2 separate regions of the Homo sapiens genome follow, and region 2 is linked to region 1. Evidence: fine-mapped expression QTL. A gene starts in region 1. The other region holds a variant in brackets. All regions are shown on one strand. Distances are between the middles of the regions.

Region 1 (11,546 bases):
ATTTAAACAAAAGCTGACTGCTCTACAACTGTTGTGTCTCTATCTTTTGTAACATATATGTGTGTGTAGCTTTTTTTTTTTTTTTTGTCAAGATGGATTCTCACTCTGTCGCCCAGGCTACAGTGAAATGGCACGGTCTCGGCTCACTGCAACCTCTGCCCCTTGGGCTCAAATGATTCTCTTGCCTCAGCCTCCTGAGTAGCTGAGATTACAGGTGCCTGGCACAATGCCTGGCTAATTTTTGTATTTTTACTAGAGATGGGATTTCTCCATGTTGGCCAGGCTGGTCTTGAACACCTGACCTCAGGTGATCCACCTGCCTGGGCCTCCCAAAGTGCTAGGATTACAGGCGCGAGCCACTGCATCTGGCCTATGTGTGTGTTTATATGGAATTAAAACACATGGCAATAATACCCTCCAAATTGGGAGAAACCAAAAATAGCATTTAAATGTTGTAAGCTCCCTGCATAATCAAGAAGAGAATAGATTTACGTTAGATTTTGATACCTGGAGGATGAATGTTGTAATTTCTAGGGTGACCATGAAAAGAGGAGACAACGGTGTATGTTTTTTTTTTTTTGAGATGGAGTCTCACTTTGTCACCCAGGCTGGAGTGTTGTGGTGTGATCTTGGCTCACTGCAACCTCCTCCTCTTGGGTTCAGGCCATCCTCCCACCTAGGCCTCCAGAGTAGGTGGGATCACAGGCACCTGCCACCACACCTGGCTAATTTTTTTTTTTTTTTAAATATTTAGTAGAGATGGGGTTTCACCATGTTGGCCAGGCTGGTCTTGAACTCCTGACCTCAGGCGATCTGCCTACCTCTGCCTCTCAAAGTGCTGGGATTACAGGTGTGAGCCATCGCGCCCGGCCAACAGTGATCACTTTCAAACTAACAGAGGTTCAAAAATAAAATCAGACTTAACCAAAAACCAGGTAACAGAGCTGGTAGGATATACAGAAAGACTGACCTCACGTATATCAACGATTACAGTTAATATTAATGAAGGAAATGCTCTAGTTTAAAAACGAGGGTTGTCAAAGACCCCACATAAGAAGCTCCTTACCAGCGGTGCACCTAGAACCTAAGGAAACAGGACAGATGAAGGAGGACGCGCCCCCGCCGCTGTCCTGCGCCTCAGCCATCCTATGAGACGGGAAAGGTTTCTGTCTGCAGCTGGGCCCGTGCTCTTTACCAGCTCCTGGCTTTCTTCTCTGGAAGGTTCCTGCCTGTTTTGCCCTCACACCTGCTCCTCTCTCAGCCCTCTCAGGGGTGGGGCTGGAGGCCACCAAAGAGCCTCCTCTGCTCTCCAGTTGCTCGACTGCTCCTCATTTCCCCCTGGGGTCTGCGTCAGGGTTTCCTTCTTTTCCAGCCCCACCCCGCGTGCATCCCACCTGGTCTCGGGTCGGGGCTGCTCCCGCTTACTGCCCCCTGCCCAGGCTGGTGTGCACCCCCTCTGGCTGCTTTCAAGGCCTCTTCTCTCTTCTCGGCAGGACAGGCACAGGCAGGTGGCCAGGTGTCATGCTTAGCTCCCCGCCCAGTGAGATTCTTTCATTTAACAATCTTCCCCTGAATAGTTCATGTTCATTGCTGAAAATTTGAAAAATATGGAAAAGCACAAAGATTAAGATATAAACCGCCCTCAATTCCCCTGCCCAGAGAGAGTCACTGCTATGACTTGGTGACTAGGAACCTTATTTCTCTCTCGCTCTTTTTTTTTTTTTTGAGACAGAGTCTTGCTCTGTCACCCAGGCTGGAGTGCAGTGGCTCGATCTCAGCTCACTGCAACCTCCGCCTCCTGGGTTCAAGCGATTCTCCTGCCTCAGCCTCTTGAGTAGCTGGGATTACAGGCACCTGCCACCATGCCCGGCTAATTTTTGTATTTTTAGTTGAGAGAGGGTTTCATCTTGTTGGTCAGGCGGACTTGAACTCCTGACCTCAGGTGATCAGCCCACCTCGGCCTCCCAAAGTGCTGGGATTACAGGTGTGAGCCACTGCGCCTTCATCTCTCTTCTGTGTATGTGTACGCTGTTTTTTCTTTAGAATGGGGGACGTTATCAGGCTCTACATGGTGTGTAGTCGGCTAGCATGTTGTAAGCCTTTCCCTGTGTCACAAGTGCTCATCTGGAACAGGATTCTAATGACTGCCTGTGGCTATGTTGGGATTCCTTTAACTCAGCTCCTTCTGCCCAGCATCTATCTTTTTTCCATCTTTTGTCCTAAGTGTTGCTATAATAAATCATTGATCACACATGCCTGACTGTTTGCATAGGATAAATTACGGGAAATGTTTTTGCTGTTCAGGGACTGTGCCCATTTTTAGGCCTCAGAGACACCATGCCAGACTGCCCAGTATTGATCTTTACTCTTTTTAGATGATGCCAAACTTTTCTGTGAACTTTAAAAACCTGTGTCTTGACAGTCCATTTCTGTAAGTCTTTCACATTAGATTTCCTGTCAGGATGATAGTCAATTCTAGGCAGATGATGTTTTCTCAGCCATGGCTGAAGCAGTTGTGATTTGTTGTGGCCATGTAAAGTCCCGATGATCCATTGCCTCCCTGGATGGGTTGGAATAATTTGGTTTGGGAGCATATAACAGAATGACCTGGAGTCACAGCAGCTCAGACGGAAGTGTATTTCTCCCTTACAGATGAAAGAATTCCAGGCCAGGCTGGAATGACAACTGCACACAGTCATCTGGGCCCCCTCCTTCCAGCTCCCATCACCCCAGGATGTGGCTTTTATGCAGATGATCCAAAATGGCTGCTCAAGTCCCAGCCAACACATCCCATTCCAGGGAGCAGGAAAAAGGTGTGTCTTTCCCTTCATTTTATGTGATTCCTTTCTAGAAGTACTACTCATTACTTCTGCTTGCATCTCCCTGGCTAGCACTTACTTAGTTATATGGCCATAGCTAGCTGAAGGAAGGACAGGGACTGTCATACACTAGCTAAGAGGCAAACTGCTTAGATAAAAAGGTCTCTAAAGAAGGTCAGAGCGGCTGCTAGGGTGCAACTCTATTACTTATTGTTATGGGACGAACTGTGTCCCTCATTCAGGTTGATGTCCTAAGCCCCAGAACCTCAGAATGGGATTGTATTTGGAGACAGGTTCTTTAAGGAGGTAAGGAGGCTAAAATGAGATCATTAGGGTGGGCCATAATCCGACTGATGTCTTACAAGAAGAGATTAGGACACGGACATGCTCAGAGGGACGGCCACGTGAGGACACCAAGAAAGGCAGCTGTCTGCAAGTCAAGGACAGGGCTCAGGGGAAACCAACCTTGCCAACACCTTCATCTCGGACTTCTAGCCTCTAGGACCATGAGAAGATACATTTCTGTTGTTTAAGCTGCCCGGTCTGTGGTACTTTGTTATGGCAGCCCAAGTAAACAAATACAGTCATCTGCTGCTGGAACAAATCACCCCAGCACTGTGGCTTGGCAGCACACATGTCTAGTCATAGAGTTATATGTAGTTACGTGTAGAGCCATATGTATCGTCACACGTTCTGTGGGTCAGGAATTTGGACCCAGCTTAACCAGCTCCACTTCTCGCCAGGGTTCAGTCAAATACCAGCTGCCTCCCACCTGAGAGCTCAGCCGGGGAAGGGTCCCTTTCCAATCTCACGTGGTGTTGGCAGGATCCAGTTCCTCATGGCCTGCTGGACTGAGAACCTCAGTTCTCACTGCCTGTTGGCCAGAGGCCGCCTTTATGTCCTCGCCATGTGGGCCTCTCCAACATGGCAGCTGACTTCATCAGAGCATCCATGCCAAGAAGGCAACAGAGAGGGCCAGGGAGACTGAAGTCATACCCTTTTGCGACCTAGTCATGGGGTGACATTCCATCACCTTTGCCCATTGGTTAGAAGCAGGCCACCAGGTACAGCCCAAGCTCACGGGGAGGGGTCATACAAGGGTGTCAATACCAGGAGGTGAGGGGTGCTGGGGCCATCTTATGAGTCTGCCCACTGAGGTAACTAACAACCTTGAGGCCTGACACAGTGGACAAAGGCCCTTATTAACAGCAGAGAACTGGGAACTTTATTTATTTATTTATTTTTGAGACAGAGTCTCACTCTTGTCACCCAGGCTGGAGTGCAATGGCATGATCTTGGCTCACTGCAACCTCCACCTCCCAGGTTCAAGCAATTCTGCCTCAGCCTCCGGAATAGCTGGGACTACAGGCATGCACCACTACACCCGGCTAATTTTTGTATTTTTAGTAGAGACAGGGTTTCGCCATGTTGGCCAGGCTGGTCTCGAACTCCTGACCTCTGGTGATCTGCCTGCCTTGGCCTCCCAAAGTGCTGGGATTACAGGCGTGAGCCACCGCACCTCGCTGGAACTTAATTTTTTTAGAGACAGTGTCGCTCTATCACCCAAGCTGGAGTGCAGTGGTGCAATCCTAGCTCACTTGCAGCCTCAAATTCCTGGGTTCAGGTGATCCTCCCACATCAGCCTCCCAAGAACTGGGAACTAACAGCTGTTTCTCTGCTGTCCTTCTCAAGAAAAGGGAGGCTACTGCTACCCCACTGGGGACAATGCTGGGTTTCCCTTTAGGACAGGCTCTGAGACAAGGCGGAGGTGCTGTTTGTGGCCACAGAGCAGGGGACTCTGGGTTGCAGGTGTGGCCTGGCTAAAGTAGGCTTTACTGGGCTCCTCTCTGCCTGCATCACCCCCCGGCTGGGCGGTTGTCTCTGAGGCCAACCTTACTCCCTGCTGGGCAGGCTGGACAGCTGCCCTCTCCGTTTGCCCCTCTACCACCCAAAAGGCAGGAGGCTCTGGAGACCAGGACCCTGCCCGCCACGGCCTGTGTCCCAGGCGTGAGGGGGTGCCCCACAGACCTCTGCTGAGCTGCTGCTGAATGACGCCCCTTGGGGGTCCTGCCGGAAGGTCAGAGCAGGGGTGCACTCCCATAAAGAAACGCCCCCAGGTCGGGACTCATTCCTGTGGGCGGCATCTTGTGGCCATAGCTGCTTCTCGCTGCACTAATCACAGTGCCTCTGTGGGCAGCAGGCGCTGACCACCCAGGCCTGCCCCAGACCCTCTCCTCCCTTCCGGGGCGCTGCGCTGGGACCGATGGGGGGCGCCAGGCCTGTGGACACCGCCCTGCAGGGGCCTCTCCAGCTCACTGGGGGTGGGGTGGGGGTCACACTTGGGGTCCTCAGGTCGTGCCGACCACGCGCATTCTCTGCGCTCTGCGCAGGAGCTCGCCCACCCTCTCCCCGTGCAGAGAGCCCCGCAGCTGGCTCCCCGCAGGGCTGTCCGGGTGAGTATGGCTCTGGCCACGGGCCAGTGTGGCGGGAGGGCAAACCCCAAGGCCACCTCGGCTCAGAGTCCACGGCCGGCTGTCGCCCCGCTCCAGGCGTCGGCGGGGGATCCTTTCCGCATGGGCCTGCGCCCGCGCTCGGCGCCCCCTCCACGGCCCCGCCCCGTCCATGGCCCCGTCCTTCATGGGCGAGCCCCTCCATGGCCCTGCCCCTCCGCGCCCCACCCCTCCCTCGCCCCACCTCTCACCTTCCTGCCCCGCCCCCAGCCTCCCCACCCCTCACCGGCCAGTCCCCTCCCCTATCCCGCTCCGCCCCTCAGCCGCCCCGCCCCTCAGCCGGCCTGCCTAATGTCCCCGTCCCCAGCATCGCCCCGCCCCGCCCCCGTCTCGCCCCGCCCCTCAGGCGGCCTCCCTGCTGTGCCCCGCCCCGGCCTCGCCACGCCCCTACCTCACCACGCCCCCCGCATCGCCACGCCCCCCGCATCGCCACGCCTCCCTTACCATGCAGTCCCGCCCCGTCCCTTCCTCGTCCCGCCTCGCCGCGACACTTCACACACAGCTTCGCCTCACCCCATTACAGTCTCACCACGCCCCGTCCCCTCTCCGTTGAGCCCCGCGCCTTCGCCCGGGTGGGGCGCTGCGCTGTCAGCGGCCTTGCTGTGTGAGGCAGAACCTGCGGGGGCAGGGGCGGGCTGGTTCCCTGGCCAGCCATTGGCAGAGTCCGCAGGCTAGGGCTGTCAATCATGCTGGCCGGCGTGGCCCCGCCTCCGCCGGCGCGGCCCCGCCTCCGCCGGCGCAGCGTCTGGGACGCAAGGCGCCGTGGGGGCTGCCGGGACGGGTCCAAGATGGACGGCCGCTCAGGTTCTGCTTTTACCTGCGGCCCAGAGCCCCATTCATTGCCCCGGTGCTGAGCGGCGCCGCGAGTCGGCCCGAGGCCTCCGGGGACTGCCGTGCCGGGCGGGAGACCGCCATGGCGACCCTGGAAAAGCTGATGAAGGCCTTCGAGTCCCTCAAGTCCTTCCAGCAGCAGCAGCAGCAGCAGCAGCAGCAGCAGCAGCAGCAGCAGCAGCAGCAGCAGCAACAGCCGCCACCGCCGCCGCCGCCGCCGCCGCCTCCTCAGCTTCCTCAGCCGCCGCCGCAGGCACAGCCGCTGCTGCCTCAGCCGCAGCCGCCCCCGCCGCCGCCCCCGCCGCCACCCGGCCCGGCTGTGGCTGAGGAGCCGCTGCACCGACCGTGAGTTTGGGCCCGCTGCAGCTCCCTGTCCCGGCGGGTCCCAGGCTACGGCGGGGATGGCGGTAACCCTGCAGCCTGCGGGCCGGCGACACGAACCCCCGGCCCCGCAGAGACAGAGTGACCCAGCAACCCAGAGCCCATGAGGGACACCCGCCCCCTCCTGGGGCGAGGCCTTCCCCCACTTCAGCCCCGCTCCCTCACTTGGGTCTTCCCTTGTCCTCTCGCGAGGGGAGGCAGAGCCTTGTTGGGGCCTGTCCTGAATTCACCGAGGGGAGTCACGGCCTCAGCCCTCTCGCCCTTCGCAGGATGCGAAGAGTTGGGGCGAGAACTTGTTTCTTTTTATTTGCGAGAAACCAGGGCGGGGGTTCTTTTAACTGCGTTGTGAAGAGAACTTGGAGGAGCCGAGATTTGCTCAGTGCCACTTCCCTCTTCTAGTCTGAGAGGGAAGAGGGCTGGGGGCGCGGGACACTTCGAGAGGAGGCGGGGTTTGGAGCTGGAGAGATGTGGGGGCAGTGGATGACATAATGCTTTTAGGACGCCTCGGCGGGAGTGGCGGGGCAGGGGGGGGGCGGGGAGTGAGGGCGCGTCCAATGGGAGATTTCTTTTCCTAGTGGCACTTAAAACAGCCTGAGATTTGAGGCTCTTCCTACATTGTCAGGACATTTCATTTAGTTCATGATCACGGTGGTAGTAACACGATTTTAAGCACCACCTAAGAGATCTGCTCATCTAAGCCTAAGTTGGTCTGCAGGCGTTTGAATGAGTTGTGGTTGCCAAGTAAAGTGGTGAACTTACGTGGTGATTAATGAAATTATCTTAAATATTAGGAAGAGTTGATTGAAGTTTTTTGCCTATGTGTGTTGGGAATAAAACCAACACGTTGCTGATGGGGAGGTTAATTGCCGAGGGATGAATGAGGTGTACATTTTACCAGTATTCCAGTCAGGCTTGCCAGAATACGGGGGGTCCGCAGACTCCGTGGGCATCTCAGATGTGCCAGTGAAAGGGTTTCTGTTTGCTTCATTGCTGACAGCTTGTTACTTTTTGGAAGCTAGGGGTTTCTGTTGCTTGTTCTTGGGGAGAATTTTTGAAACAGGAAAAGAGAGACCATTAAAACATCTAGCGGAACCCCAGGACTTTCCCTGGAAGTCTGTGTGTCGAGTGTACAGTAGGAGTTAGGAAGTACTCTGGTGCAGTTCAGGCCTTTCTCTTACCTCTCAGTATTCTATTTCCGATCTGGATGTGTCCCAGATGGCATTTGGTAAGAATATCTCTGTTAAGACTGATTAATTTTTAGTAATATTTCTTGTTCTTTGTTTCTGTTATGATCCTTGTCTCGTCTTCAAAGTTTAATTAGAAAATGATTCGGAGAGCAGTGTTAGCTTATTTGTTGGAATAAAATTTAGGAATAAATTATTCTAAAGGATGGAAAAACTTTTTGGATATTTGGAGAAATTTTAAAACAATTTGGCTTATCTCTTCAGTAAGTAATTTCTCATCCAGAAATTTACTGTAGTGCTTTTCTAGGAGGTAGGTGTCATAAAAGTTCACACATTGCATGTATCTTGTGTAAACACTAAACAGGGCTCCTGATGGGAAGGAAGACCTTTCTGCTGGGCTGCTTCAGACACTTGATCATTCTAAAAATATGCCTTCTCTTTCTTATGCTGATTTGACAGAACCTGCATTTGCTTATCTTCAAAATATGGGTATCAAGAAATTTCCTTTGCTGCCTTGACAAAGGAGATAGATTTTGTTTCATTACTTTAAGGTAATATATGATTACCTTATTTAAAAAATTTAATCAGGACTGGCAAGGTGGCTTACACCTTTAATCCGAGCACTTTGGGAGGCCTAGGTGGACGAATCACCTGAGGTCAGGAGTTTGAGACCAGCCTGGCTAACATGGTGAAACCCTGTCTCTACTAAAAATACAAAAATTAGCTGGTCATGGTGGCACGTGCCTGTAATCCAAGCTACCTGGGAGGCTGAGGCAGGAAAATCGCTTGAACCCGGGAGGCAGAGTCTGCAGTGAGTTGAGATCACGCCACTGCACTCCAGCCTGGGTGACAGAGCGAGACTCTATCTCAAAAAAAATTTTTTTTAATGTATTATTTTTGCATAAGTAATACATTGACATGATACAAATTCTGTAATTACAAAAGGGCAATAATTAAAATATCTTCCTTCCACCCCTTTCCTCTGAGTACCTAACTTTGTCCCCAAGAACAAGCACTATTTCAGTTCCTCATGTATCCTGCCAGATATAACCTGTTCATATTGTAAGATAGATTTAAAATGCTCTAAAAACAAAAGTAGTTTAGAATAATATATATCTATATATTTTTTGAGATGTAGTCTCACATTGTCACCCAGGCTGGAGTGCAGTGATACAATCTCGGCTCACTGCAGTCTCTGCCTCCCAGGTTCAAATGCTTCTCCTGCCTCAGCCTTCTGAGTAGCTGGGATTACAGGCGCCCACCACCATGTCCAGCTAATTTTTGTATTTTTAGTAGAGATGGGGTTTCACCATGTTGGCCAGGCTGGTCTTGAACTCCTGACCTTGTGATCTGTCCACCTCGGCCTCCCAAAGTGCTGGGATTACAGGTGTGAGCCACCATGCCTGGCTAGAATAATAACTTTTAAAGGTTCTTAGCATGCTCTGAAATCAACTGCATTAGGTTTATTTATAGTTTTATAGTTATTTTAAATAAAATGCATATTTGTCATATTTCTCTGTATTTTGCTGTTGAGAAAGGAGGTATTCACTAATTTTGAGTAACAAACACTGCTCACAAAGTTTGGATTTTGGCAGTTCTGTTCACGTGCTTCAGCCAAAAAATCCTCTTCTCAAAGTAAGATTGATGAAAGCAATTTAGAAAGTATCTGTTCTGTTTTTATGGCTCTTGCTCTTTGGTGTGGAACTGTGGTGTCACGCCATGCATGGGCCTCAGTTTATGAGTGTTTGTGCTCTGCTCAGCATACAGGATGCAGGAGTTCCTTATGGGGCTGGCTGCAGGCTCAGCAAATCTAGCATGCTTGGGAGGGTCCTCACAGTAATTAGGAGGCAATTAATACTTGCTTCTGGCAGTTTCTTATTCTCCTTCAGATTCCTATCTGGTGTTTCCCTGACTTTATTCATTCATCAGTAAATATTTACTAAACATGTACTATGTGCCTGGCACTGTTATAGGTGCAGGGCTCAGCAGTGAGCAGACAAAGCTCTGCCCTCGTGAAGCTTTCATTCTAATGAAGGACATAGACAGTAAGCAAGATAGATAAGTAAAATATACAGTACGTTAATACGTGGAGGAACTTCAAAGCAGGGAAGGGGATAGGGAAATGTCAGGGTTAATCGAGTGTTAACTTATTTTTATTTTTAAAAAAATTGTTAAGGGCTTTCCAGCAAAACCCAGAAAGCCTGCTAGACAAATTCCAAAAGAGCTGTAGCACTAAGTGTTGACATTTTTATTTTATTTTGTTTTGTTTTGTTTTTTTTGAGACAGTTCTTGCTCTATCAGCCAGGCTGGAGTGCACTAGTGTGATCTTGGCTCACTGCAACCTCTGCCTCTTGGGTTCAAGTGATTCTCATGCCTCAGCCTCCTGTTTAGCTGGGATTATAGACATGCACTGCCATGCCTGGGTAATTTTTTTTTTTTCCCCCGAGACGGAGTCTTGCTCTGTCGCCCAGGCTGGAGTGCAGTGGCGCGATCTCAGCTCACTGCAAGCTCCGCTTCCCGAGTTCACGCCATTCTCCTGCCTCAGTCTCCCAAGTAGCTGGGACTACAGGCGCCTGCCACCACGTCCAGCTAATTTTTTTGTATTTTTAATAGAGACGGGGTTTCACCGTGTTAGCCAGGATGATCTTGATCTCCTGACCTCGTCATCCGCCGACCTTGTGATCCGCCCACCTCGGCCTCCCAAAGTGCTGGGATTACAGGCATGAGCCACTGTGCCCGGCCACGCCTGGGTAATTTTTGTATTTTTAGTAGAGATGGGGTTTTGCCATGATGAGCAGGCTGGTCTCGAACTCCCGGCCTCATGTGATCTGCCTGCCTTGGCCTCCCAAAGTGCTAGGATTACAGGCATGAGCCACCATACCTGGCCAGTGTTGATATTTTAAATACGGTGTTCAGGGAAGGTCCACTGAGAAGACAGCTTTTTTTTTTTTTTTTTTTGGGGTTGGGGGGCAAGGTCTTGCTCTTTAACCCAGGCTGGAATGCAGTATCACTATCGTAGCTCACTTCAGCCTTGAACTCCTGGGCTCAAGTGATCCTCCCACCTCAACCTCACAATGTGTTGGGACTATAGGTGTGAGCCATCACACCTGGCCAGATGATGGCTTTTGAGTAAAGACCTCAAGCGAGTTAAGAGTCTAGTGTAAGGGTGTATGAAGTAGTGGTATTCCAGATGGGGGGAACAGGTCCAAAATCTTCCTGTTTCAGGAATAGCAAGGATGTCATTTTAGTTGGGTGAATTGAGTGAGGGGGACATTTGTAGTAAGAAGTAAGGTCCAAGAGGTCAAGGGAGTGCCATATCAGACCAATACTACTTGCCTTGTAGATGGAATAAAGATATTGGCATTTATGTGAGTGAGATGGGATGTCACTGGAGGATTAGAGCAGAGGAGTAGCATGATCTGAATTTCAATCTTAAGTGAACTCTGGCTGACAACAGAGTGAAGGGGAACACCGGCAAAAGCAGAAACCAGTTAGGAAGCCACTGCAGTGCTCAGATAAGCATGGTGGGTTCTGTCAGGGTACCGGCTGTCGGCTGTGGGCAGTGTGAGGAATGACTGACTGGATTTTGAATGCGGAACCAACTGCACTTGTTGAACTCTGCTAAGTATAACAATTTAGCAGTAGCTTGCGTTATCAGGTTTGTATTCAGCTGCAAGTAACAGAAAATCCTGCTGCAATAGCTTAAACTGGTAACAAGCAAGAGCTTATCAGAAGACAAAAATAAGTCTGGGGAAATTCAACAATAAGTTAAGGAACCCAGGCTCTTTCTTTTTTTTTTTTTTGAAACGGAGTTTCGCTCT
Region 2 (11,546 bases), 630 kb after region 1:
TGCACAATTAGGAGGCCCACTTGCAGATGACAGAACAGGCCTGGAGAAGGAGAGCCGCCTGCCCAGCCACACATCTCCCGAGGGCAGGAGAGGACCTCCAGGCTGGCCTCAGTCTCCCTCGGCCGCGATCCCGTGGCCCCCAGGTCTCAGGGGCTCTGGGGTGCTTGGTGTTTGGGCTGCAGGAGATGCTTCTGCTGTGTGACCCCCCTCCCACTGCCCGGACTGACCCCCCTCCCACTGCCCAGACTGACCCTCCTCCCACTGCCCGGACTGACCCCCCTCCCACTGCCCGGACTGACTGTGTCACTCTGGGTGAACCTCTCCCAAGCTGGGCCTCAGTTTCCCCATCCAAAAAATAAGAGGTTGCCCATACGACGGGAGGGCGCCCGTTATGATGCCCGGGTCCCTCCCAGGCACCCCCCATTTTGGTGCCCAACACTCTTCCTTTCCCCCGCTCCTGCATCTGCCTCTGCTCCTATCTCTCCCCGTGGGGTGACCCTCCTTCCGCTAAGGCCGGCAGCATCCTTGGTCCAGCCTCCTGGGGGGAGCTCAGTGCTGACTCCAGGGGCAGGGGCTGCAGGGGAAGGGGTGGGGAGTGCAGAGCTGAGGCCTCCACAGGGGCTTCAGTGCAGGGCCTGCCCCAGGTCAGGGGAGCAGCCCTCGGTGCTGGCCAAGATCGGGGGGCCCAGCTGTCCCTGCGGGGCAGGCCTGGCCCACCCAGAGAGGCCCCACCCCACGTTAGCTCTCAGGTCTGCTCCTTTCCTTGGAGTCCCTGAGTTCTGAATCCAGCCCCCCTCCCCCGTGCTTGGCAAGGGGGGCTCCAAGGAGAGGGAGGAGGGGTGGACAGGAGGAGCACGTGATGCCGTCACGGTGGGGGCTGGACATTTGTCACGACCGTAGAAGGTGCCACACAGACGGGGAGCCCTCGTGCCGACCGTGGGCTTCAGCTAATGGCGACGCGTCCATATGGCCCCTCAGTGCGGCAGACGCCCCCACCGCACCAGTGCACGAGGCACTCGCGGAGCCTGTGGGGCGGGAGGTGTGCGGAGCTGCGTGCTGTGCTTCAGGCCCAGTTTCCCTGTGACCTAAAACTGCTCTAAACACTGAAGTCCATTAATTAAGAGGGGGGGGAAGGGTGAGGGGCAGGACAGCAGTGAGGGTGCGGGTGGCTCTGGAGGAGGGTGGCTGACCTCGGAACCTGTCCCCATCCCAAGGCCATTTGCAGCTTGTCCCTGAGAGAAGCACAGAATGGCACGGTAGCAGCAGAGATGGGGGCAGGGTGGGGGCAGCCGCCTTCTGGAACAGTCAGCCCAGGGCTCTGGACCCCTTCGGCCTCCAGAGGCCCCATCTGGCATCATGGGAAGAAGAGAGGGTGGGGAGGGGAAGTTGGGAGTTCTGCCTGTCAGTGTGGGGGGCTTTCTGTAGCTAATGGGGGCGAGGCCCAGGGTGGGGACTTCAGGGAGAGCTCCCATCACTGTAAGGGATGTTGGGACCTGGCTGGGTTCTGTCAGTGCCAGGCACGTCCCCACCAAGGATCAAACTGCCACCTGAGACCTGGAGAGGAGGGCCGACATGCCAGCCCCACGGGAAGACGGGCCGCGGGGCTGGGCCCCATCCTTTGGAATCTCCCAGGACTCTCCTGCCTCCCTGGGACCAGCTAAGGACAGGAGCCGCTGCCAGAGCTATTACCGGTGGGCGCGGTGTGCAGAGACAAAGGCACTGATGATCTCAGGTTTCTTTAAATGCACCGAGGAACTCAGAGGAAGTGGGCTGCATTTCTCTCTAATCTGTGATTCTGTCAACTTCATTTTTTTCCCCTCTTCCCTGTAATTATCCCATCGGTGGGTGAAAATAAACTCCTGCAAGGAGACAGCCTCCCAGAAGGCGAGATGCCGAGCGGTGGGAGGCCAGGCAGCAGGTGGGTGGGGAGCCGTGGCTGGCGGCTTCCTGGGCTTCCTCGCACCCTCTGCGGTTTGGGAGCAACTCATAGAGTGACCTATTGTCGTGGCTCGCCCAGGACCGTCCTGGTTTTAGCACAGAAAATCCCATGTCCCAGGAAACTCCCCTAGTCCCAGGAGAATGGGGAGGGTGGCCCCTTACACACAGGCTCCTGAGGGTGTCTGGGCTTCCCAGGACAGCTGGCTGGGACCCCACGCCCCGTGTCTGCCTCCTCCGGGCGCCCCCACCACAAGCACACCAGCCTCATGTGACTGGCACTCTTTCCACCTCCCTTCCCTGCAATTCCAGGGCCTCCCCTCAACCTCTTCCCTGGGGACGTCCACGTGGACTCTCTTCCCCAAGGTCCACCCTGGGACTCCCCCGAGCACCACACACTCAACCAATGACCCTCTGAGCCCCCAGTGTCCCCACCTGCTACTCTGCTGGACAGCAAGTGAGTTACACCTTGTGCTTTGGTTTTCCCATCTGTAAAGTGGGAATCATGGTGAAATCTAGCGGTGGGGGTTTTGCAGGGCTTCAGCTAACGAGTAAATCTAAGGTGCTTAGACCCAGTGCTTGTTACGAACAGATAGCGATAAAGATCGCTATTTCTATCACCTCTGCATGTCAAAAGCCACTTACTTCCCATAACCACTTAGAGATTGTTAGTGGAATCTGCATTTCACAGATGAGGCACAGAGAAAGGAAGGAACTTGCTGGGAGGACTGGACCAGTCAGTGCCCACGGCCGGCGCTGCCTCCAGCTCTGTGGACTGTGAAGCCAGGATGACCCTCTGCTGAGGCGCCTCTCGTGTGGGCGTATAATCATCCCGATCATCATTTCTGGCAAATCAAAAACCCAGCACAACCCCACATTGAAGCTCTCAGAAATGTCTCTTAATAGCTCTGATTAAAGAAACACACATGAGCAGGTTAGAACCAGAGAGAATTGATTGTGCTGGGTAGCGGTTAAGCTGTCTCTGTGTTATTTAGCTCTTAAACAAGGAACTCTGCTTTGGAGAAAATATTAATTATTTCTCTTTTTCCTGGCTCGACTCTTAATTGCTATTTTGCGTGGGTGGAGTGGGAGCCTTTTGAGGTGAGGGAGGGAAACTGTTCTCCCCTAAATGGGTCAAACTGCCCTGGGGTTATGATCTCTGCCTCAGGTGCAGAGACGTCCAGTCACATGGCTTACTTGGTGGGGAAGCCCCCTTTCTCCAACCTAAAGCCCCAGGTTGGGAGGTGCAGGCTAGGGGATGAAACACACGCTCCCTCTGCTATAAATGTCCAACCAACTCTCCAGGGCTGTCCTGGTGTTTAGCGGCAGGCAGGCTGCAGCCCCAGCGTCGGTGACTGTGATGTCCACAGGACAGTCCTCCTGGCATTCCTTGACCATCCCTTATCCAGAGATGTGTCCTCCACCCTAAGTCAATCGCTCGCTGACTCCCAGCCTGCCACCTTTCCACTGGGTTATTGGAACGGCCTCTGAGGGGGCCCTCCTGCCGGTCTTGGCCCATGGGCTGCCAGCGGGCTCCAGACCAAGCCTCAGGCTGTGTGGCTGACAATGGGATGGCTGGGACAGTGCTTGGGTCCTTCCAGTCTCGCCCCCGCGAGGCCTGGATTGGAGGTGGGGCCCGGAAGCAGCTCCCATCTGACGCGCCACGTCCTCGCTCTTGCTGCCTGCCTGCTGGGAAGGCAGCCTCCAGAAATGTGCTGCTGACCCCATTTCCTGCATCCCCATCTAATGTGACCTCTTTTGAGCACCTTTTGTAAGCCACAGCCCCCACCCTACACCTCTCAGCCCCTTCCTGTTTCATTTTCCTCCGTGGCACAGAGAAGCGTCTACACAATGGCCCTCTTTTCACCACTTGTCCCTCTTGTCTCTACCTGCCCTCTCCACTAGGACAGAGGCCCCAGGTGCGGCAGCTTCCCTCTGTCTGGTGGGCTGCTGTGAACTAGAGCAGTTCCTAGGGCAGCAAGCGGTTCCAAGCGTCCAGCATGAGATTTGAGCCTCCTCACAACCTCGGCCATGTGAGGGCACATTCACCAGCTCAGGGATCAGGATGTGGACACATCTTGTTAAAGCCACCATGTGACCGTGTCCCTGAAGGACGGCCAGCGACCTTCTGTCAGTTCCTCAGCACAGGTGGGCCCCGTGCTGGGCTGGGTGCCTCATAGCCCTGCCCCAAACCCAGGGGCCTCATGGCCACCATGTTCCTCACGCATCTTTCCCTTCCCGAAAAGCTGTGAGCCCTGATTGCCCGTCCCTGACACTGGTGGTGGAGGACCCAGGCCTTCCAGGGGTCAGGGTGGGGCAGGACTGCTGGGGGTGGTCCCCTAACAGCCTCCGGAAACTTTTGTCAAAGGGAAGGAACTTTGACGGTGGCCACTGAGCTGGTTTAGAGAGGCCTCCAGACCCCCGCTTCACACCTGGAAAGCAGTGATGCCTCCCTACCCTGTGAACACAGGGGCCCTGCCATCCGTGCGGGGGTAGACAGGAGTTTCCCTGCCCACCTCACTGGGCCAGATCCCCTCCTGGTGGCTTCTGGAGATGCTCCCGTCCTGGCAGTGGCTCCAGGTAGGAGCCACTCCCCATGCTGGACACCCAAACCTCCCCAGCCCATCTCGGGGTGTGACCAAGCTCTGTTGCTCCCAGCCCATCCCAGGGTGTCACCAAGCTCTGCTGCCCGACAAGTCTGGGGCCATTGCCAGGCCTGGTGGCCTTGATTTATTGGGAAGAAACATAATACTTTGGAAAATTATTTCCTTCTTTCTTTTTTCCTTTTTTTTTTCTCCAAAGAAATTGGAGAAACCTGTGGTTTGCAAATCTGCTGACCCTGCAGGAGGCTTGGATGGCACCAGCCGGTGTTAGGAAAGCCTGGGCCGAGACAGAAAACACCTAGAGGCAGATCCAGCCCATTTCGGGGAGAAAGTGGGTCACTGTGGGGCTGTCCAAGTAAACTGTGGGCTGGGGAGATGGTGAGCACCCACCATGGGGTACAGGAGCAGACACCACGTCCCTCCTTCAGAAAGGGGTCCAGCCTCACCCTCAGTGCCCATCCAGCTCCCAACATGGTGCCCGTGGGCATTCTGGGTCCCACTGTCCGTGCCTATTCTGGAGTGAGGTCGGCGCCACCTGCCCTGGCCTCAGTTTCCTCATCTGTCACATGGAGCTCCTGCCTGGTTAGGAGAGCTCTGGGTGCTGCTGGCTAGGGTGGACCACAGTCCAGGGACGCAGGGTGCGAGGATGTGCTGGACTCAGGGGCTGTGGCAGTGCATTGGTTTTGGCACAAATGGCCCCAGATAGTGATGGGGGGACTGCACCCCACAAGCCATACCCAGCTTCCTCTGCCGCCACTCCTCTGGGCATGGGGCCTTGGATGCCATGAAGATGCAGGACGCTGAGTCGCTGCTGCAGAGCGCTTCCTGGCCACTCCCTCCCTTCCTTCTCCGTCTGTTTTCCAGCACCTCCTCCTCTGTCCATGCTTAGAGGGTCAGTCAGCTGTGTCCCCGGCCTCTGCTCCCTGTGCACCTGCCTCCTTCCATCCCAGCGCTGACCACAGCCTGGAGCTTCAGGCCCAGTGTCTATCCACACCCTGGACATTCCCCGGAGGCTGCAGGACCTGGAAGCTCAGCTACACTCTTACTCACTCATCAGTGTGTTGGGCCGAGGGAGTCCAAGGCTGCAGGACCGCCACATCTGGAATATCCATGGAGGGGGTTCTGGAGGAGGCTGGAGTGTCTGGGAGCAGAATGTGCCAGTGGCGGAGGGTTGTGTCCAGGGTGGTTCTGGTCATACCGGGCAGAATAGCAGAGGGCAGAGAGCTGAGGCTGCGAGTACAGCGTGTCTGGAGATGGGGTGATTAGATCCATCCAACTTAGGTCCTGGCCGATGGTAGTTCCTGCAGGCAGGGGTGGCTGGCAGATGAGTGCCTGGTGTGGGGCCTCAAGTGTGAGCTGTGGCCAGCGTGAGCCAATTTAGGAGCTAAGAGCGAGGCCTACGGGAGGTACTTCTGCCTACTCTCTCAGAGCACACTGAAGCTGTAGGCTTTGTACCCAGGCCTCTGG[C/T]TCCCAGTACAGGCTCTCTCCGCCCCACGCCCACGCACCCTCCCTCCTCCAGCCACTGCGCTGGGGGCTCTGCTGGCTACACACTGGCTCCATCTGCTCTGGGCTGCATGGCAGGAATTTTTTGGATGACTCCTGTGAGGCAGCAGTCCCTTGGGGAGCCTGTGGTTCCCCCGCCTCTCTCCATTCTCACTCCCGAAATAGAGCCTGGCCCCGCCCTAGGGGACTGGGGGCTGGTGATGGGGACAGCCAAGCCAAGGGCCATGTGGTTGCCTCCGCGGACGCCCACTTCCTCCTGAAACCATCGTGGAGACAGAACGGGGAGGTGGCCAGGGGGCCGGAGCTGCCTCTGGCCTCTGCAGGGTGGAAGGGCCCCCAGAAGTCTTTCTGCCCTCCTGGGACTTGGTTCCTCTTCTTTAAAGGGGAAGGTGATATTCCCCTGTCCACCCTGAATTTACTGCAGAAGGGGTGAACGAACCCACCAGCACTGAAGGGATGGAGGTCCGCAGGGCTTCACATCAGGGAGGGACCAACAGGCCAGCCCTTGCAGATACCCCAGCCCGCCTTCGCTCTGGAGCACTCGGCCCACTAGAGTTTCCCCTCACCACCTGCATCCCATCCCATTCTGCAAGACTCAGTGCAGGATGTCGCAGGTGCTACCTGGAGCCTCTGACCCTGGGGTCTCAAAACCAGGATGGAGCCTCCAGCATCCCTGTGTGCCCCAGAAGGACACCAAGCCGGCAGAGAGCCATGCCCAACCCTCCTGCTGGGACTGCACCCTCCAAGGACCTCAGCCAGTGCTGGTGGCAGCGGGCTGGGCTGCAGGCCTCTCAGCCCCTTGTTGGGCCCTCCCATCCATCCATCCATCCATCCATCCAATTATTCAACCACAATCCACTCCCCCAGCCTTGCACAATCATTCCCCAGGCTACCTACCCACCCACCCACCTGTACATCCCCTCACCCATCCACTCACACATTCAGGCATATAGGATTTATCAGAAACCCACCTGCTCCACCTCAGACCAGCTCAGGTCCCAGGCATGCCAGCACATCTCCAGGCTGCCCGGACTTCCATGATTCACACATTCAAAGGTGAAAGCAAAGATCCAGGCCTCAGAACTGCTCATCACGTCACACTCTTGGATCCTAATTAATATCCAGACTTTGGCCGTGGGAGCCCTCTGTGAATGTGTGGCATGGGACTCCCACTGGGACATGGATTACAAGGGTTTCGCTGCTGGAATCAGCTACTGGGGATGGGGGGTTATGGTAGCCATTGAATTCTAGGACGGAAATGGAGGGAGCCTAGAGACGCCTGCTCTGACATATACGAGCTGTTGCCACTGACTTCTTAGGGCTTCCTTCCATGATATTTATTCAACAAGGAAGTGCTGAGGCCTGCAGTGCCTGGCTCTGGGCTAGGGGTGATGATTCAGCAGGAGCGACGTGTTCGGGACCACCTCCGTCATGGGGGTTGTTCAGGGAGGGGTGCTGCACTCTTGGCTGATTGTCCACACCACGGTCTAGGAGCAAGGCCGCACCCCAAAATGCTGTTTTGTGCTAAGAGGGACCTGGAGGACTGTGAAAAGGAGGCCCCTTCCCACAACCTCCCCAGGTCTGGATGCATTTTGGGGGTAACAGGAGGTGAGAAGGGCTCAAATTAATAATCGGTCTCTGTTTGGGGTTGTTTTGGCTGTCATGGAGTAGGTGAGGGGAGCTGCAGGTACTGTGAAAACCCACCGAGGACCTGGGCCAGGGCCAATGGAGCCCTCCTGGCAGGGGGACGAGCTTCCTGAAGGTCATGGTCAGGATTTCACGCCCCAGACACAAGGAAGCAGCCAGAATCCTCTACCGAAGGCTTGCGGACTCACAGCCTCGTCCGGAGCACTAGCGTGCTCATCCAGGGGAGGAGGCCCGGAGGCCTCCAGCCTTCCTGACCTGAATTTCATTCAACCAAGTTCCCCGCTCCAGGGTTTGCAGGGTGATGATTTCCTAACCCGGTTGCAGAACTTTGCGCTAATTTCTGGGACGCCTCGGGGCTGTCTGCTGCCTGGAAGTCAGAAGGACCAGGACTACGATCTCTGCTCCGCAGAGTCCAAGCTGTGTGACCTTGGGGGCGTGGCTTCTCCTCTCTGAGCCTGCTTTGGTGCTTTCCTCCAGAGAATTGGAGGAGAGAGCTGAGCGGCCCCACATTGCTGCCCTGTAACCATGTATCCAGCACTTGGGACACCCAGAGGGATCAGACTGGACCCATCCCTGCTTCTAGGAGCCCCACCTAGAACACTCACCCAGGGGGCAGAGAGCCGGGAAGCACCGGCCGGGAAGGCGGCTCGTCCAGACTCTGGAAGCGTCTGATCTTCTGAGGCTTCTGCCACAGTGGCCATCCTCTGACAATCCTGCCCACCCACCCCCCGCAGTGGGCTTGCCAGGCCCTTCCCGGCCCTGCTCCTGCCCTGTCCCGGGGAATCTGAGGTCTGCCAGGTTTCCATGGCCACAGCCTCTCTGCTCTGGAATTTGCTAGTCCAGCACACCGCGGTGGGGGAGTGGGAGAAGGCTGTGCCTCCTGTCAGGAGGCATGGAGGGAGGTCACGCCTGACCACGCTCCGCATTCCAGTGGAATTCTAACTCAGTGTGTGCGGGGAGGCACACAGAAGGTTCTGGTCCTCCTTGCGGGGGGCCTTCAGACACAGAGTGGCAGTGGGGACCCTGGAGTGAAGGGGGTCCTGCTGCGGGTTCGCTGTGTTGGTGGCGATGGCCACCCACCCTGATTTTGCAGGTGTGGGGCCTGGCTTGGAGGGGGCATGTGTCCAGGGTCACTCGAGGCCAGCCTGGCCTGTTCTTGCTCCTGCTCTGTGTCACTTATGGCATACCCAACCCCCCTTGCCAGCTCCTCAGCTGCAGCTCCTGGGGTGGCCAGGAAGCTTCCAGATCCACATCCCCTAGGGGTCCCACCAGGGTCTTCGTCGAGCTCCCTGTCTTCCTAGCACCACCCTCCACCGTGCTTCTCCCACGGCCCTGTCAGGCCTCTATCAGGAGCACGCAGCAGAGCAATTTGACATTTTGGGCAAAAAAAAACCGAGAAAATGAGCATCAGCAACATACTTGGTGATGGAGCCGGCTGCTCTGTCTCCCACATGCAAAGCCTGTGCTGTCTGCAGAGTTTGACTGGCCCGTGTGGAGCTGCTCCCTTCCACGTGGTCAGGAGCAGGCTTGAGCTTATCAAGGTCTGGGCATGCTTTGCTCGGTAAGAAAGAGGGTGGGAGCAGACCCCTCGGGCAGAGGAGAAGGAGACCCGCACAGACGCCCCGTCCCGTCCCCAGTGCGGCCGTCTTCGCCCTCTGTGGACCTTCTTGGCCGTGGATTGACTATTCAGAGGCTGCCTGCTCCTCCGCCCAAGGTCTGCTACACGGCGGGCAGGGATGTGTGAGGCTGGCTGTTTGTTCCGGTTTCCCCAGAGTCCAGGCAGGGCCAGGCCCACAGCAGGAGTTCTGACCTATTTGTTCAATGAATGAATGCAGGAATGAATGAGTGAGACCTTGTGCCAGCCCCCGGTGTTGGTGCTTTCAGACCACTCCCTCTCACGGCCCTTGGATGGGGCGTCGTTACCTGGCTCTCGACGTCACCAGTGGTGGAAGTGAGGTGGGCGTACCATGAGGAGTATCACAAAGTTGCCCCAAACCTGCTTTGAGCTATGACGGCAACACCGAGGCTTTTGCTTTAGGGGACACCCCAGAACTCAAGCATCCAACTGTGGTCATCCTGGGGCCACCAGGGGCGGGGCTGTCCAGGGCTGGCCCTGTCTACCCCGTCCCTACCCTGTGGGTCCTCGTCCCAGCTGGCCTCAGCCCAGTGCGCTCCCCTAACCAACGCAGCCCAGAAATCATACTGGGGTCTTCGGATGTTGTCTGTATAGGCAGTCCCTGAGCTGGGAAATGACGGGGTCATATTTGTGGACAACAAACTTCTTCCTCCTCACCCCAAACCAGAGCCTGTGGCAGGGAGAAGGACAGAGCCAGCCCACCCTGCCTCCACCTCCCCAACACCCTCTGCTTCTCCCCATGACCCGGCCACCTGGGGCACATCCTTGCCCTGGGGTGCCTAGCAAACTCCTACACAGACATCAAAATCCAGCAGGCCCCCCTCGACTCAGGGCAGGGACTAGGTCTTCTCTCCTCTGCTCTCTATAGCACAGGGAGGATGGAATATACTGAGGGACAGGATCCCCCCTTTACTGATGGGGAAACTGAGGCCACACCTAGCGCAACAATCTCCAAGTTGCAGAAACCTTGGTAGCTGGTGCTGGAATTTGGAGCCCCTAATTCCAAGCCTGCTGTGGTCCCTTCCCAACCATGCTGCTCGGTTGTATGTGCCAACCTGGCCAGGCCGTGGTCCCCCATGATCCCAACACATGTCTAGAGGTTGCTGTGCCAGTGTTTTGCGATGTGACGCACATTGGCAGTCAGCTGACTTTAAGGAAAGGAGATGGCCCCGCATAGCCTGCGGCAGCCTCATCCAATCCACTGGGGCCCTCGGAGCAAACTCTGAGCCTACGTGGAGGAAGCAGGAATTCTGCCTGGAGACTGTGGTGGAGAAGCCCTGCCTGGGTCTGCAGCCTGATCCGCAGGGGGATCTTGCCAGCCCCCACAACTGCGTGGGCTGATTCCCTAAAATACATGTCTCAACATGGACCTCTCTCCCATCAGCTGTTTCTCAGTGGAGAATGCTGACTGGCACATCAGCCGGGACCTCTCACAGTTGTGGGCCCTGTGACCCTCACCTTGCTCCCATCATCCTGTCCAGCCGCCCACTCCTCCCCCTCTGCCCCGGCCAGTCCCCACACCCAAGCGGAGTTCCAAGACGGTCCCAGCAGCACTGCCCGCTGCTGCCTCTGAGAGCACAGCCACTGCGGGGCCAGCGCAGCCACTGAGGCGATTAGAGTAGGGCAGGCCCAGAAGGCCAGAGTCGCCTGGTCACGGGGGCCACAAGACTTGGGGCAGAGGTCGAGAGTACAGGCCTTGGAGCTGGCCCCCGCCCAGGTTCAAACCCCGGCTCGGTCGCTTGCTATCTGCATGGCTTCCAGCACGTTCCCTCAGTCCTCTGTGTGCCCCTATAAACTACAGACGAGTGTCGCGGCGGCTACAAGCCAAGTGCCCAGAGCTGTGGCTGGTGTGTGGTATGTGTGTCCCAGGAATCTCAGGGCTGCAATGATCACTGTGCAAAGTCCCACTGAGCCGGGTTCAAAGCCCACACGCCCCTCACTCCCTGTATTCAGGGCTCTCAGGAAATAGAACCAATAGGACGGATATGTATAGAGAGATAGCAAGAGATTGATTGTCAGGAATGGGCTCACTGGACCCTGGAGGTGGACAAGCCCTGAGATCTGCAGGTGGCAAGCTGGAGACCCGGGAGAGCCAACGGTGCAGTTCTAGCCTGGAAGCTGGCAGGCTGGAGACTTAAACCCAGGAGGGGCTAATGGTTCAGTGCAGGCTGGAAGGCCAGCGAAAAACCAGCTCAGCCGTCAGGCAGCAGGAGCTCCCCTTA

Alleles and levels. Alleles are on the strand shown, and positions count from the first base shown. SD is a standard deviation of normalised expression in the study named.
As copies of C replace T in region 2, the expression in pituitary of the gene that starts at base 6,098 in region 1 goes up (small effect, 0.28 SD a copy in GTEx).

What was found.
Region 2: its variant is fine-mapped to the expression of HTT in pituitary (GTEx, PIP 0.96).

The regions. Positions count from the first base shown.
Region 1 is chr4:3,068,584-3,080,129 of GRCh38, forward strand. HTT (huntingtin) reads left to right here and starts at 6,098. Exons shown (of 67, transcript NM_001388492.1): 1 at 6,098-6,505. The coding sequence starts at 6,243. It also overlaps HTT-AS and the pseudogene RNU7-33P. RefSeq lists silencers at 5,154-5,773, 5,924-6,363, 6,474-6,543 and enhancers at 6,704-6,933, 6,944-6,993, 9,274-9,413, 11,091-11,230.
Region 2 is chr4:3,702,166-3,713,711 of GRCh38, forward strand. No RefSeq gene overlaps it. Among named protein-coding and RNA genes, the nearest start is that of LINC02171, 30 kb to the left of the region's middle. RefSeq lists enhancers at 708-1,615, 1,616-2,522, 11,385-11,546. The variant C/T (reference allele first, on the strand shown) is at 6,006.